Regions from separate parts of the Homo sapiens genome. Here region 1 is linked to region 2. The links come from fine-mapping of genetic effects on gene expression. A gene starts in region 2. The other region holds a variant in brackets. All regions are shown on one strand. Distances are from middle to middle. Region 1 has its middle 14 kb from the start of MIR1587. Region 2 holds the start of LINC03053 (long intergenic non-protein coding RNA 3053).

The links. PIP is the estimated chance that this variant, and not a neighbour inherited with it, causes the effect.
Region 1: its variant is fine-mapped to the expression of LINC03053 in whole blood (TOPMed, PIP above 0.99).

Annotation. Positions count from the first base shown.
Region 1 is chrX:39,847,621-39,855,941 of GRCh38, forward strand. No RefSeq gene overlaps it. Among named protein-coding and RNA genes, the nearest start is that of MIR1587, 14 kb to the left of the region's middle. RefSeq lists enhancers at 5,695-5,989, 7,738-7,857, 8,128-8,207. The variant C/T (reference allele first, on the strand shown) is at 3,321.
Region 2 is chrX:40,004,865-40,013,185 of GRCh38, forward strand. LINC03053 (long intergenic non-protein coding RNA 3053) reads left to right here and starts at 4,386. Exons shown (of 2, transcript XR_007068218.1): 1 at 4,386-4,937; 2 at 5,154-7,330. RefSeq lists enhancers at 1,370-2,306, 3,526-4,153, 7,177-7,900 and a silencer at 7,632-7,681.

The DNA of each region.
Region 1 (8,321 bases), 160 kb before region 2:
ACACAGACAGGGAGACAGAGTTTGCATCATGAATGAGAATGACAGGAAAAAATGTATTTTATAGGAGACCCTCAACCCCTTCCCACACACACAGACATGCATGCATATGCACACACAGACACACACACACACACACACTCCCCTCCATGAGAGACATGGGACAGCAATTCCTTTGCAAAAGGTGGGGTGATGATGAAGAAGGAGAGAGGGATAAGAAGGGTTACTCAGCTGTCACATGGGGAGTTCAAAATGGTTTGGCTAAGGACTTACCAAGTTTTGGAGGGCATGCCCTGCACATGTTGTAAATTAGACACTAGAAGATGGGAAATCTGTCAAGGAAATAAATCCCGACCCCTACCTCGGTGAAGCTCCTGGTCTAATTTTCGATGGAAAATAAATAGTGCAACTCCGAAGTTGGAGATAATATAATGCCACCAGGACCTGGACACAGAGAGCTGCCTGTGTCAGGACTGACAGAGTGTGACAGGTTAATCCAGAGGGGCTTACCAGAGGAAGTCAGGAATCTGAAGGAGAGAAGCGCCCGGAATTAACCACGAGACAGAGGAAGCGCCCCACCATCCTAATAAGGATAGTGTCTTAACATGTTCTTCTGTTTGGTGCCGTTTCAGAGGGCCTTGTTAGCTGCAGTGTTCCCCTAAATCTCGGGGAAATGTTATTTCCTCCTCCAAAACACTAACTTATTTTTAAAATAATAAGGAAACTCCCAGTGATAAAGCAATCTATCTCTGTTACTAAAGTAAGTGTAGGAAGGTCCCTGCCAATGTTATCCCGTAGAGGTCAGGGTTAGTGGTAACGAACAGGGTGTGCTCTGAGGATGACGTCACCTGTTCCATCAATCACTTGGGAAGAAAACGTCTGGAAGTGGAAAGTGGCCCTACTGGTGTTCAGAAAGTGGACCTTAGCCAACTGAGAGAGAACATGGATCTAGATCTCTTGTGCCAGGACATCTTGAAGCTGGAATATATATATATATATATATATATTTTTAGACAGAGTCTTGCTCTGTTGCCCAGGCTGGAGTGCAGTGGCGTGATCTTGGCTCACTGCAACTTCCTCCTCCCAGGTTCAAGCGATTCTCCTGCCTCAGCCTCCCCAGTAGCTGGGATTACAGGCATGAGCCACTACTCCCAACTAATTTTTGTGTCTTTTTTTTTTTTTTTTACTAGAGATGGGGTTTTACCATGTTGGCCAGGCTGGTCTCGAACTCCTGACCTCAAGTGATCTGCCCACCTCGGCCTCCCAAAGTGCTGGGATCACAGGTGTGAGCCTTTAGGGGCACTCACCAGTGGTAGGGCTCAAAGTTAGCATCTGCTTGAGGAGAAGAGATGTCAGTTAGCCAGGAACTCGTAGCAGGAGGGACGTCAAACTGAAGATGAGTCAACTCTAAGTTGTGAGCCAAATGCTCCAGGTTCGTGTTTCTCTGTTTATTTTCTCTTTGTCCGCCTCCAAACTATTTATTAAAATGTGAGCTCCACGAAGGGCAAGGGCTTCATCTGTCTTGTTCACAGCTGTATCAGCAGCTAGAAATGTGCCTGGCACATGGCTCACTAAATATTTGGTGAACGGATGAATAACAAGACCTAATTGAATGCTCAGACCTTGGTTCAGCTGAGCTACTCAATAAATCTGGGAAGGCGACTACTACAAAACACAGAAGGCCTGATCAGGGGGTGGCAAAGAAACTCGAAGCACCTATGAAGCCGCTGTGACAGTCTCAGGGAGACCAGAGCGAGGAGCCCAGGGAAAAGGTGACTTCTCTAAAGTTTCAAGTGCCAGCCGTGTTTTCAGCCTGATATCGTTTGGATGTTTGTCCTCTCCAAATCTCATGTTGAAATGTGATCCCCACTGTTGGAGGTGGGGCCTGGTGGGAGGTGATTGGATCATGGGAATAGCCCCTCGTGAATGGTGTAGCGCCATCCCTTCAGTGATAAGTGAGTTCTCGCTCAGTTAGTTCATGCAAGATGTGGTTGCTTAGGCCAGGCAGGGTGGCTCACGCCTGTAATCCCAGCACTTTAGGAGGCCGAGGCGGGTGGATCACGATGTCAGGAGTTCGAGACTAGCCTGACCAACATGGTGAAACCCTGCCTCTACTAAAAATACAAAAATTAGCCGGGCATGGTGGCACGCGCCTGTAATCGCAGCTACTCAGGAGCCTGAGGCAGGAGAATCGCTTGAACCTGGGAGGTGGAGGTTGCAGTGAGCCGAGATCACGCTGCTGCACTCCAGCCTGGGCAACAGAGCAGGACTCCATCTAAAAAAAAAAAAAAATCTGGTTGTTTAAAAGTGTGTGGCTGCCTCCCCTCCCTCTCTCTTGCTCTCACTCTCAACATGTGAAACATTGGCTCCCCTTCGTCTTCCACCATGATTGTAAGCTCCCTGAGGCCCTCATCGGAAGCAGATGCCAGCACCATGCTTCCTGTACAACCTGCAGAATCAAGAGCCAATGAAACCTCTTTTCTTTATAAATTCCCCAATCTCAGGTATTTCTTTATACTGACACAAAAACAGCCCAATTCACAGCCTGTCTGCATTGACTCCACTTCTATCACCAGCCGCTGGGAGAGGTGGGTCCTGTTTTACTGAACAGTGTCCCTAACATGGCCGCCCTTCCTTGTATAGGCCCCAGAACCTTCCAGGGTTAAACAAAAGCAGGTTTCCAGGATGGAAAAGCTCCAGGCAGACATGAGACGCTAAACACCCAAACTTTCCTCCTGGAATTCCCCTTCCTCTTGCAGTTTGTACCTTGATACCAAAGGTCACCCCTAGGAGAAAACACCCTTCATGACTAGTCCTTCAAAGGACAGAGTCCTTTTCTTTGTTTCACCTTAGCAGAGTCGAGACAGGCAGATAAAAATGTCTTGCTTTGTTAAAGAATGAAGGAGGAGCAGAAACATAAGGGGCATAAAATCATGTTCATGAGTGAGGCACGTCTGGACACACAGGGGCAACTTTGATTCCAGACCTGCCTCCCGGAGTCAGATAAGGGAGCTGAAGTGCCAGCCAGTGGCCTCAGCTTTCTTAAGTCCTCCTACTCCAGCTTTGGACAAGCCAATGCCATCTTCCTCCAAGAGGCAGGCACCATCTCTTTTCCAGGGCCTGCGGGGAGCAGTTCCCCTCTCCTTCTGCCTCAAGGATGGCACCTCCCAGCTTCCCTAATCTCTCCCCCTTAGTGTGGGGGTGCAGCTAGTCTGTGGATGATTTGCAGGACAGTGGTGGTTGACAGCCAGCAAATAATAGAGCTCCCTGGGTCTGTGTTATCTAATCCACCTACCCCTGGAGCTTCCCTTAGCAACTCACTC[C/T]GGAAGCACCCCTCCCCCCACACCATCTGGAAGTGGTTTCAGAAAAACCTACTCATTATTGTTAAAAAGCAACATGTAGGCTTTTGCAAGATACAGTTACAACAGCAGCCCCTAGATTGTAAGTTCCCGGAAGGTAGGGATCTTTCCCTTGTTTGCTACTGTGTAACCATCACCTGGCACATAGTAGGAACTTGATAAATGACTTTCAAATAAATGCAGAATTAATAAACTCACAATCAAGGTCTTCCAATTATTTCTGCATAACAAATTACTCCAAAATTTAGCAGCTTAACAACGGTTTTATTATGCTCGAAGTTTCCATAAGTCAGGAATTTGGACGGGCCAAAGCATTGTGGATCTCTCTGCTCCACAATGTCTGGGGTCTCAGTTGAGAAGACTTGAAAAGAGCTGGGGGCTGGAATCATCCAGAAGCTTCTTCATTCACACATCTGGTACTTAGGCTGAAATGACTTGGAGACTGGGCTCAGTTGGGACTATGGATCTCTGCACCTATGTGTTGTCCCTTCATATTAATTGGGCCTCCTCTCAGCATGGCCGGCTGAGGGTAGTCAGAGTTCTTACATGACAGCTATTCAGGGCTTCAGGGCAGAAGCTGTGTGGCCTTTTATGACCTAGCCCTTTCATTCTCTTAGTTGAAGCTGTCACCAGCGTATCCAGATTCAAGGAGAGAAGGACCCCGCTTCTCATTGGAAGGAGTGTCAGGAAACTTTGGGGTCATGTTTTTGAACCACCCCAAAGGGTGAAAGATTAGAAAGCTCTAATGATGTTACATTCATTCCTTCAACAGAATTTACGTTGAGCATCTACCACATGTTAAGCTCTGGGTTGAGTGATGTGCAGGGATTTAGTGGTGAACAAAATAGACATTGTCTCTGCCCTCATTAAACAAATAGATACACAAACAAATGCATAATTACATATCATGATGAGTGCTATTAAGCTGGGGGTGGGGAGTGCCCTGAGAAAGAACAGGGAGACTTAATTTAGATTGCAAATGTCTTGCATACAAGGTTTTGTGTGCAAGCAGTTTCTTTGGGAGGTGATTCCAGGAAGCATCAGTAGGGCAATGAGGACATGGAGAGAGAGCCAGGGGGGCAGTCAGAGGCCGTATTGATAAGTAGGCTCCCACCCATTTGTCCGCATTTGTTGGGGCAAATGGGGCTGGGTCCTGCAGGATACCCCTGGTTGACAGTGTGGAACACACCTCAGATCATCCCTCCTGAAGGATGAGGAGGCTGGAGCATTTACTTACGGAATCCTAACAGTCAGAGTTGAGGGTGTTAGGGAGGGCTGCCCACTCACGCAGCCAAAGAGAGCCTCAGGCAAAGGACACCAAGTGCTGGCAGAAGCAGCCAAGAGAATGGGGAAGGAGCCTGCCCAGGGGTCAGGGAAGCCCTCCATGAACAAGTGATCTTCTTAAAGAAGGAGTTCAAGGGTCAAGAAGTTAGGATTTCTAGATGGTTCATAGATTTTTCTGTGTTATATGTGGATTTTCACCAAATGCAACCCTAATGCCAGCACTTAGCACAGTGCCTTAGATAGTAATATGGTTTTGGTTTTCTTCCTGTGTAATGATTGTCCCCACTGACCACCCTGCCCCCACCTGCCCCTCTCCTTTGTGACTAATGGAAAACATTGGCAAAATTGCCCACAGGCAGGGAGGCAGGTAGGCAAGGTGGGGAGAGAGTTTTCCCTTTGTGTGAGTTAACTGCCCGGAGTTGCGGGCGTCACACCCCACCACTCTGACCTCAGCTGAGCTTAGTGAGGCAGAGAGGCTAGCCTAGCTTAAGCTGTCACTAAACAATTCTTGGGGGAGATCTTTCATGCCTAGTCAGTTCCTCAGGAGGGGAGTCTGTGTAGAGAAATCCAGTGAGCAGTACCCTTGTTGAGGGATGGTCACATTAGCCAGACACATGGCTCTCTGGTCCCGGCAACCTGAGAGAGATTCCCAGAGACCCCTCGCAGTTCCTCAGCACAAGCTTTGCAACAAGCTTTGCAACACCAGACTCCACGGAACAGCAGGTCTGCGGTGAACTGGAAGAGACGCTACGAAAACACTAATCAGCCACCGCAACTGGGGGGAAAAAAATCAGTGAGCAACTGGAAAAAAAGCATTTTTACAAAGACAGTATAATACTCTTTCATTTTCAAATAGCTAAATAGAATTTCTGTATAATTTTCAAACAGTGTTTGTCTTAATGACTCTTTGAAAGCCTCCTTTTTCCAATTTGACTGCTACTGAATACCAAGTAGATGCCATGCCCTGGGTGAAGCATTTTTTGTAAGGTAAAAATCATAATAATGACTGCCTGTGTAGTGACTTTCAGCGCTTGACACAGTGCGTAGCTAAAGCAGGAACATGGTCCCTAGCCACTTGTCGACATATCTCTTTTTTGTGCACTCTCCTGCCTTTGGATTCTCAGCTGCTCTCCCACCCATCCCCAGGGCTGGCCTAAGTCACCGTCACCCTGAGGACAGCAAAACAGTATGTGGGGGAGGGGCGGGAGAGGGAGAGGAGGGGGAAGAGAGAAAAAGGGAAGGGGAGAAAGGAGAGGAGACAGAAAAGGGCAGGGGAGAGGGGGGAAGAAAAAAGGGAGAGAATGGAGAAGGGGAACAAAATGGAAAGGGGGGAAGAGGAGGGTGGGGAAGGAGAGGAGAAGGGGAGAGGGATGGAAAAGCAGGCAGAGGAGAAGGGAAAAGAGGAAAGGAGAGAAGGGGGAAAGAGAGAAGAGGAAGGGAGGGGAGGGGAGAGAATTCTTCTGGGATGGAAAAGGCAGGAAGTGAAATTCCTAACCCAGTGATAAATAGAATCCCAGCTGCACCAAGAACAGAGCAGTGGTAAAATCATTCAAACTCTGAATTCCTGACAGTGGAAAATAAACTCATCTTTGCTGGTGAATGGAAATTTAGGGAAGGCAACCGGGTGTGCTCTGGATTCCACAGCCCCATCCCTGGTAGAGGGCACAGAAGCATTGGAGGGTTGAGAAAGGGCAACTGGCAGCCTTTGGGCCAAGTTGCTTTAAGTCCAGAGAGGCTGAGAAAAGCAGCTCAATGCTGCAGAAGAGAAGGTGGAAGTTGGAAGTAAGAAAATGAAAGAGCCAGGTGGCCCATGGTGGAGAGGTGCCCAGAGCTGGCGACAGAACCCAAGGAACCCTGGTTCCTGGGGTGACCTTGAGAAAAGACCCGGCCAGTCTTAGACAAGGTGATGAAAGGAAGGAAGAAGGCTACTGAGCTGAAGAGAACAAAAATATTTCCCCAACCCCATCCCGCTGGACAGTGAAGCATCTTCAGGGCCCCTAGCCTGGGTGCCGGACAAAAGACTTGGAGGTACTGGAATATTGGGTCTGTGCCCCAGCCCTATCCGTGCCCAGTGTTGGGCACCCCCAGAGGCTAAGCTTGGCCAAAAGCTCCTCAGGCTTCCTCATCCCACTTGTTCATGGGATGGTTCCACCCATATGAAGAGTAAGGCCTGGGTGGTGCCTCTCCTCCTGACTCCAGCCTCCTTCCCCGGCCCCAGTCCCATCCATACAGGGGTGCTGGCCTGGCCCCCTCTGGTGGGAGGACAGATAAGCAAAGGGGTGGTGGGGACACTCTAGATGCTTCACCCACATCCCCTCGGGCTCCTTCCCCCACCCCATATAGCTTCCCCTCTCCTAATTCCCACAGCCTGTGCCTGGGACTCTTTGCAGGCCCGCCCGGGGCACATCCCCCTCAGAGCCAGAAGTACCCAGGAGTTTCAATCCCCACACTCACGGTAGCTCCTAGCTGGTGCAAGGGAGCATGCAGGTACAGTGCTCTTGCCTGGAGTCAGGACAGGCTCTGAGTTGACACTTGCCCTCCAGAGCTCCTCCTTTGGGAGGTCATGAGGTCATGAGGATGGAGCCCTCATGAAGGGGGTCAGTGCCCTTATAAAAAGCGACCCCAGAGAGCTCTCTCTCCCTGTCTCTGCCATGTGAGGGCACAAGGAAAAGTTGGCAATCTACAGCCCAGAAGAGGGCCCTCCCCCAAACCCGACCGTGCTGGTACCCTGATCTCGGCCTCTCAGCCTCCAGAACCATGAGAAGTACGTGTCTGTGGTTTATCAGCCCCCCCGCGTGTGGTACCGTGTTACAGCAGCCTGGATGGACTAAGACCCTTCTGCAGAGGGACTTTGTCTGAAACTGGCTTCCTCCCCTTCTTGGTCCTGCCCTTCCATACCCTTCCGTGTTTCTTGGGAGCACTTCCTTAATAAATTGCTTCCACACGAATCCGCGTCTCAGAAGCTGCTTCTGAGAAAACCGAAGTGATGGGGCCCCTGGGCTGCACAGTAATAACAGTTGTTACAGACGGCACCTCCTCCAACCCTCAGAACCAGACGGCCACAATGGTATTGACTGCATTGCACAGAGGAGGAAACGGAAACCCAGAGAGCAGAAGGGACTTGCCCAGGATGGTGGAGTTGGTGAGCAGAGCAGCCTACATTAAACCCAGCTCCAAAGCCAGCCCTGGGTCTTTGATGCCCCACAGAAAATACATGGGAGGAGCCCTGCAGCTCCTGAAAGGAGCTAACATCTCCCAAGCCCCACTTCCAGGGGCAATCTGGGGCCAGCCAGGTACTTAGATGGACAGATGACCAAGGAGAGACCACTCAAGCCCTCAGTTTGAGAATGCATTCCTCTGCGTTCACAGGCTTACCTGGAGCCAGTTCCCCAAAGCCCCACTGGACTTTTTAAGCCCCCAGAGGCCTTCAGACAGGAACCCACTGAGTCTTCAAACCCCCAATCTCCATGGGGTTAAAACAATCCCCAAAAGGCAGGACTTACTAGGAGTCGTTCAGAAACTGGCAAAAGCACCCTCTGAATAAATGTTCAGGGTTCCATCCGGAGACGCCCACGGTGACTGATGAGTCATCAGATAGCCAGCTGTCGCCACAGAGTGCTATATATAGAAGCTGGAGGGGTGCCTGGTACCTAAAGAAAGGGGAGGAGCACACACCTAGTA
Region 2 (8,321 bases):
TTTTCCAAGAATTGACGACCCCCCCACCCCGAGTCTTGCCAATCCTGGACCCAGGAAAGAGGATGGGGCGGGAGGGGTCTTAATCTGCCGCTCTACAGGCTTCCTGCATAGGCAACCACCCAAAGTCAGTCCCAGCCCGCGCGCAGGGCTCCCTCCTACCCTACAACAGCCCCGAGGGGCCTCAAGTCCCACTGCCTGGAACCCCACAAGCCACCCCCGCCCCCGCGCCATTTCCAGTCCTCTGGGCGAGGGGGGTCAATGTCGTTCAAGTAATTTCTCTGCGAACACAAGATGGCAGCCTTAAATAAATGCAACCCTGCGCAGCTTTTAATCTTACACATCATTAAATTCCTAATTTACACATTATGTTTTCGTGGGCCAACCCATAACTCATTAGTGTTGAACTCACGAGGTATAAAGACCAACGCACGACGGGCGCCGGGGCGCCGTCACCTGCCTGGGTTAACAGTTCCTGCCGCGGGGGCAGGGAGAAAGGCGCTAGAGGGGCGCGGGGTGCCGGCGGGGCCGAGCCCGGGGCGCGGGCGAGCCCTGGGTGCCAGGCCCTGCGCCGCACGCCACTCTCGCAGCGCTGCCGCCGGGAAAGTGCCGGCGCTGGCTCTCCCTCCCCTCCCGGGAATAGCGGGCGCAGGCACGCACATCCACACACATCCACACACACACACACACCGCACACTCACACACCCGGGTGGCCGCGCGGGGCTCCGAGCCGCGCAGGCCTCCTTGGCAGACATCTTCCTGTGGGAGGATTTCAAACGAGCCGTGAAAGCCAGAAACTACACGGGTTACAAACTCCGGAATCCCTGGCCGGCCTCGGCCTCCCTCCCCACCTCCGGCCCGGCCCCCTCCGTTCGGCCCGTGGCCAGGAGCCCCACCAAAGGACAAAGCTCACACGCCGAAAGCGCGGGGAGATCCGGGGGCGCAGAGACTGCCCCGACGGCCCTTCTACCTTCTGACCCTGGGACCCACGGCCAAGTGCCGCGCAGCCGAGGTCGGCCTTGCTGATCTGTGGTGGCCCAGGGCGACCCGAAGCGCACCGGCTTCAGGGTGCGCCCTGGCCAGGGCGTGGGGTGGAGGGTCACATAAGCCACCTGGCATCCGAGGGTGGCCGCCTCGCCCCCTCAACGCCGCTCTCCAGGGAAGGAGGCGGCGGGGTCACCAGGGCGCAGCTGACAGCCCCAGGCCCCGGCCAGGGCGCACCCTAAAGAAGAGGGAGGCTGCTGCCTGAACTGGCCTGGGGGCAGAGGGAAGTGGGCCCCGCGCTGTGGAAGGCCCCAGGCTGGAGCGCCGGGGACAGCTGTCCAAGCGGCGAGGGCTAGGAGTGGCCTCGCCTAGCGCTGAGCCGGCCAGGCCCTGGAGGTGCTCCGCGCCTTCTCGGCCAAAAGCCAGCTCCGCGCCGCTGGCGGAGTGGGAGGGAGGCGGCCAGGCGAGCGCCCCGCCTTCGTCGCCCGCGGTCACAGGGGCAATTACACTCCTCGCTGCAGACGGTTACCAGCTCGCCCGCGCATCCCTCTCTCGGCTCCCCTCTCCTCCCCTCTCCTCTCCTCCCCTCCCCTCCTCCGCGGAACTGCTGGCTCCATATTAGCGAGGGTGCCCTGGCAGCGCGACCGAGGCCAACTACCCCTGGGGACCCTCCCGAGGCTCCCCGCACCCTGCACACCCTCAAGATCGCCAAGGCGAGCCCACCGCACCCCACAGCGCGTCCCAAGGGCACCACAGCCGAGGAAGCGACTTTTGCGGTAGCGAAAGGGTGGCAGTACCCAGCTCCACGCGCTGCAAGACTCTAGCAGCCGCGCTTCACCCCAAAACTCTGCCCCTAGCCAGCACAGCTCCCCTAGCGCCCCAAATCCCAGGTGTGCCTGTTTCCCTGGAGTCCCGCCGGCGTGCTTTGCTATTCGCAGCTCGACGCCTAGACCTCCTGACTGCAACCTCCGAGGCCTTTGCGCTCCCAGGCGTCCTTTGCTGCAAGCAAACAGGCCCCCAACCGCCCCCTATGGTTTGTACTCTTCTGGAAGGTGTCTTTGGCGCTGTGAATGCAAACTCAGGCTTTGGATTAAGGGCTTCATTTTCAACTAACTGTGTGATTTGAGGCCAGTTTCTTAACCTCAGTTTCTTTATCTACAAAATGGGAGGGATATTCGTATAAGTGTGGCTACGAGGTTTAAAGAAGATATAGTTATATGTCAAATGCTTAGCACAAAGTCCTGGTGGTTAGCATTATTATTACCATATGGCCAGAACTGTGAGGACATTAAAAGTGAAGTAGGCTTTTTCCCACCAGGGGTAAGCCTCGCGGAGTCCTAGGACACATCCCACAAACCGAGGTGAACCTAAGCCACCGGCTACGTCTGAAGGGAGGACAGACGAGACGAGGGGCAGCCAACTGAGCGAATCACTCTGCCTTCCGCCTTTGCAAATGAATAGGGCTCTGTCTACAGCTTCCGCCATTCCTACGCCAGATCTGCAACGCCTAAGGCTTAAACTTGGCGCGGCGGTAAATTTAGCCCGAAGGCAGCGGCTCCTAAGGGGCGGGGATGTCTCCTTGGAAGAAGGAAAGGGAACAGGGTAAGAAAATGGAGTTGCCTCTAGGAAGAAGAATCAGGCAGAGGAAACATTCAGGGCCGCTGGCGGACCACTGACAAAAAGAAATCGGACGCAAAAGAAACCTCCCCAGAAGAAACTGGGCCACCGTGGGAGCCGTGCGAGACAGACTTCCCATCTGGGAAGGGCTGCCTACGGGTAATTGGGTTTGCTCGAGTTGCCTCTATAATTAATAAGTGATTTGACTTGGAGATTGGAAATAGTCATGAAAGGAAGCCGCGGGCGTAGGGGTGTGAGGCCCAGGAGCCTCCATCCGAAATCCAAAGACCGCGGAGGAGGACGGTTTAAGGAACAGGACGAATGTGATAATATTGGCATCTAACCTTCTAGTGTTTGAGTAATTCGTTGCTTAGCTACTTTGGATAGGCCATTATTTTGCAAACTGGAAACATTTGCAAGTGGTGATATTTTGCTCTTGCCTGACGCAGGGGCTGCAAACCTACGCCGGCTCTGCTGAACTCTTCGAAATATATATGCATAAATTGTTCCTAATGAGACCATCTGTTTTTTATGGCCCCTCTGGAAGCAGGAGGAACCCGAAGCCTGCTCCGTCTTGCAGAAATCTGTGGCCAGGCAGGCCTGGGAAATAAATAGGGGAGATTAGAACGGTGTGCGTGATTTAACAATACGCAGAACGGCAAGTTCGGTGGTCGAGATGTGTGCCTCGATTCCCAGGGGTGCGGGTCATTTAGGGTGACTCCAGACATGGGGGTTCCTCCTAGGAGGCCCAGGGACTTTGCGGAGTTCCACGGCACACACGAACCTCGTTTTTCCATATCTGGAACATCGCCAGAGCCACAACGCGAAACCACGAGCCTGTAGCTGCTCTGGGGACCCAAAACAAGCACCCAGGTTGTAGGTGGTCCCCGACGTCGCCCACTATCTAGGGCCTCCTTCTACGGTGGTGAAGGGAGCTGAACCTGGGCCACAGAGGCAGAGAACGAGCATCACTCCACCCCATACCCGGGTCAGAGCACAGAGCTCATTCCGGGCCTATCCCAAAGACTGAGCTGCTCCGCGAGCGTCTGGCAGGCCCAGCGCCCCGGCCTGAGACCGCACTGAGGGTGGCAGGGCAAACACTTTTCACATTACCGCGTGGCTGTTAATTGGGGCAGTGCAAAAGACGCCGCGACTACCCCTTTGCGGCGGCGGGGGAGGGGGGAGCGGGTCAGGAGTGGGCAGTGGGGGCTGCTTATAATAGAAGGACTGCCCTGGGGAGCCTCAGATATCGGTAACCCCCATGATTAATTCATAACTCTCCACTGCGCCTGGCACCGTCTCGGGTCTTTAATCGGTTCTGAATGTCAGCGAGGCTTCCCCGACAGCCTGAGCACTGCTTTTTCAATGTGTTGAAAGTCGCTGCGCGCACACCAGGAGACAAAGTTGCCATCTGCTCCGGGGACCAAGGCAACTGGGCGCTGGGAGGGGCCTTCCTCCCGCGGCTCCCGCTGCCCCGGGCGGCCTCCTCTTCCCGGCCTGCCCCAAAGCCAACACTGTCACCCGGAACGTCCCCGCCCCCCGCCCCGGGTGCATGCATGGTGGAAACTCCGGCTTGCAGCGAAACAGAGCGCTGCGCGCGGGCGCGCAGGGAGCCTCGCGGTCACCCAGACCGAGACCTATGCTAATGAGATTATAGGCCCGGGTTGTTTGTGTGCGCGGACGTCAAAGGGGGGGCGCAGATAAAGTGTGGAAACCGGGATGACTTGGAGGGGGGAGGGGCAGGAAGCCCCAGGAGAACAAAGCTCCTGGCCGTCGGCCTCCAAAGAGTCGCAGAAGTGACCGCCACTGGCTCGTGCACAGGCGGAAGCGGGGGAGGGCGGGGGACGCCAGGCCTAAAGCGCCTCGTGGGTTTAGAGAACTCAGAGAGGGCACCGGGTGGGGGTGGGAAGAAGACTCAACCCGTAGCTAAATGTTTGGCCTTTGGCTATTTTTTAAGGAAACGAATCTCAGGGAGGTCGGGGCGCGGGGGATGGGGGCATCATCGCGCCTCGGAGATGGGAAGCGAGTTCCCCTCCGCTTTCTGGGAAAAGCCTTGTCTCCCTTCTTTCCCCTCCCCCCATCCTGCTGAGGGTTTGCGTTGACCCATCTCTCCGCTCGGGACCGGCAGGAGGACGGAGCCGCAGGGGCTGACCGCGGCCCAGAGGCTGCCCAGGGGTCGCGCTGCTGCCGGCCTGCGCTTCCGCACTCCCGGGTTCGGTGCGTCGCCTCTCGCGGCAGCGCCTCGCTTCTTCCAGACTGTAATTCCACACTCCCGCAAGCGCTGGGGCTGCGGAATCGTTTGAGGGAGTTGGAACTGCATCAGATGAGCACGCCGGGAGGTGAGATCGGGTAGGAAATAGCCGAAACTTTGAGTTGTGCGCCACCCCACCGCCCCCAACACACACACACAGGCACACACACACACACACACACACACACACACACATTTACCCTCCCCCTTCCCAGCCGCAACCTCCGCCACCCTCTCGATTCTTCAAGGTTTGCAGCCCAGTCCTGTCATATGGTTTTGTTTCTGTGCTGCTGTTTTTTTTCAGACACGAAAATTGGACACGTGGAGAATTAGCCCTGCTGGAGAAGCGCTGGGTGCAGACTCAAACAATGGTTTCCAGCGCCGAAGCTGAGGCATCACCTTCCCCACCTCCACCCTCAAATGGCAGCTGCCTCTATATACAGCGGGCACACCCCTTCACTACCCACCCCCTCCCCCAAAGCCTGGTTAGGGACCTATGTGGGCTGCACGCTCTGGAGCCCCTTGCCCGGACACAAACCCTAGGTGGGCCTGGGCTGCCCGCTGAGTAGCTCATTGCGCCTGGGATCCCCTGGGATTTAGAAGTATAGGGCTCTCTATTTTTCCCTAGGAAGGTCCTGTCTCAAAGATGCCACCCCCAAAAATTAATGTGTAAAAACCCAACCAAGCTCCAGTCTCTGTGTCCTTTGGCAAATCTATCTTTCCTAGGGCATACTTTCCTAAGCTGCTGGGACCTTGCCCCCCATCTGATGAGCCATACGCAGGTGGTCTGGCCTCTTCAGAGCAGCTTCCTTTAGTTATTGTCTTCTCCAGAGGCCCCATCCTCCACGGCAGCCCTAATCTTAGCCCCCCAGCCTCTCTGAGCCCCCATCCCACCCCCACACTGCGCTGAGCTGGCAGCAGCCACAGCTCCCCCAGGCAGTTCCTCTCTCACTGCGCGGCCTGTGCATCTCGCTGGGGCACACACTCCGCACAGAAGCTCCCTCGCCTCCTGGAGCTGGTTTCCTCTTACAGGCTCCCCTTAGAGCTGCTGGTGCTGTGACAACGCCTGCATCTCTGTGTCTCCCTGCAGCGCTGCGAGCTGTGAATCTGCCTTCTCTTCCCTTCCTGCAAAGGTCAAGCTGCCTCCTTCTCTCGCAGGGCCGCAGTTCAGTTCTGGCCTGCAGAGCTTCTACACTGCAACTTGAATATGGGAATGGGGTGGGCATCGTGCAAGGGAGCAGTCACACTCAAGCCAGGAGGCAGGGACAAAAGGGTGTGCGATTCAGGGAGGGAAACACTGAGGACAACCCTCAGAAAGCAGTGCAGGATTTGCAGCTAAAGACTCAAAAGAGGGAGAGAAAACGAGGAAAAGGCTGTTACTAGGTCGTGAGTCCTGAAGTGTAGGCCTTTCTCCTCCCACCCCGTGGGTTGCCCTAGGGGAAGGCCAGAAGAGGCCTCAGGTGTCTGCACTGTGTCCTGTGCAGTTCCTAGGGCCATGCACTTCCGGTGAGGCTGCACTTTACTCCAAGCAGGAGTCAGAAGCATGGAATTCAGTGGCCGCAGGAGCTCAAGTCGGCTGCAGCCCTTTCAAAGAGGGACCCCGAAGAGGCCTTTCTGCCACCCCAGCCCCAGAGAGGCTATGAGGCTCTACAAGCAGCAGAGAGAATGATACGGAGAAAAATGAGAGGAAACGCTATTAAACTTGCTTCCTCTAAAGAGCGCTACCCACCGTTTTCTCTGAACTGTACCTAAAAAGTCAGGAGAGAACTCGTTAACTTTTGTTTGGTTTAACATTGCCAGCTTCAAGTCAACCGTAGGCCCCCCGAAGGTTTTGTAAAATATTTAATCTAGCTCAGACAATTTCCTGCAGTCCCTAACCAGACCACCCCACTTACTGAGCCGCTGCCAAAAAGGATGCTTGACTGCAGACTGGCAACCAGAGGCCTTCCAGTCGCCTGGCTGGCCTTGACCTCCACTCGAGGCGCCAGGAAAGACCCTTCCCGGAATCCCGAGAGACCAAGACCTGGGTAATCCTGGAGGTCTAAACCCGTGAGGAAGCCCAAGAAATGGAGTTAAAGACCCTTTTCGCACAACCGATTGTTGTCTGTGTGACCTTCTGCGGCCCTTGCCCTCTCTGAACCCTCTAAAATGGGCATGAGGATGTCTCACCTTCCTCTGGGTGTTATGCATTTTGAAGCGTGGGCACTATGGGAGAGGCTGACGCTCTGTGTTCCCCAGCGCCCTCCACTCCCACCCCTTCACTGTTTTCTTCGACATTATCTCCCTAGAGAACACAGCAAGCAGGAGCGGGATCCTTCGACTCGGCTGACTCTCAACTCCTTCCAAACGTGAGGCTGACGGGGAGAACTCCTGCTCTGCCCAGTTTCCATTCCCGCCTCCAGAATAACGAGCCGAAAACATGTGTACTGTAAATAAAGCCTGTCTAAATAAAGCACTCGGGTAAAGGCTACCGAGAAAACACTCCGCATCGCTCTGTGCTCAGAGCGTGAGTCAGCTTCCCAGCCCCGGGGGAACAATGGGGACCTTGCCAAGGGTCCCCTTCTGTCGACCCCTGACGGCCCCCAGGCCCGTTTGGGTGGCGGGAGTGCCGGCACCCTGGGACCTTCGGGCCCGAGGTTCGGGAGGGCTAAGGGCGCTCCAGGCGACCAGGGTTGGGGTCCAGCCCCAGGATTAGCGCGGCCAGGAATCCCTCTGCCCGCAGCTGCCGCGGAGGGGTTGAGGGTTAAACAGACACCGGGCAGAGGAGCGAGCCTGCCGGCTGCGGCCGGCGCGGCGCGGCGCGGGGAGAGGACGGGAGGGAAGAGGGCGCACGCTACCTAGCCTCCCGACGAGAAGACGTCTCCTCCCCACGTCAGGCCGGGCTCTCGCCCACTCGGCTGGCCGCCTCTGCTCCCTGGCCTCTCAAGTCTCAGCGGAAAGAAACGTAGCGGCTGCCAAAAGCACCCCACTCCTTTTATTGTCCCCATAAGCCTATACACGTACACTAGCCACCCCCCCAACACACACACACAACACGCACACGTGTGCGGGAGACTCGAGGATGCCCTGCCTCCATCGCTCACAGAGTGAGTACCAAGGCCGAGCGAAACGGCACCCCTTTGGTGGAAGACACAGTGTTGGGACCAGTGGTGGCCTCCGCGCTACGTCTTCTATCGCAACCTCTGGGTTTCCTTTGCAGAACTGCATACCCCAGAGCAGAGGCCATGTGGAGACCTGCGGCTTGGTCCCGACTGGTGCAGTGGCCTCTGCTCTGGTGTGGGCTGGCGGTTTCCCCGCGCCCGGTGACCTTAAGGGGGTTTCCGGAGTCGCGCAGCCAGCCCTTCCTCCCAGCTTCTCCGGCCAAGGCCGCTCTCGGCCGCCCAGCCTGGTCGGGCTCGGCTAGTCGGCTCCTCGCCCCGGGCAGGAGTGCGGTTGGTGAAAGCACTCGGGGCCTCACCCACGCTCTGTGCAC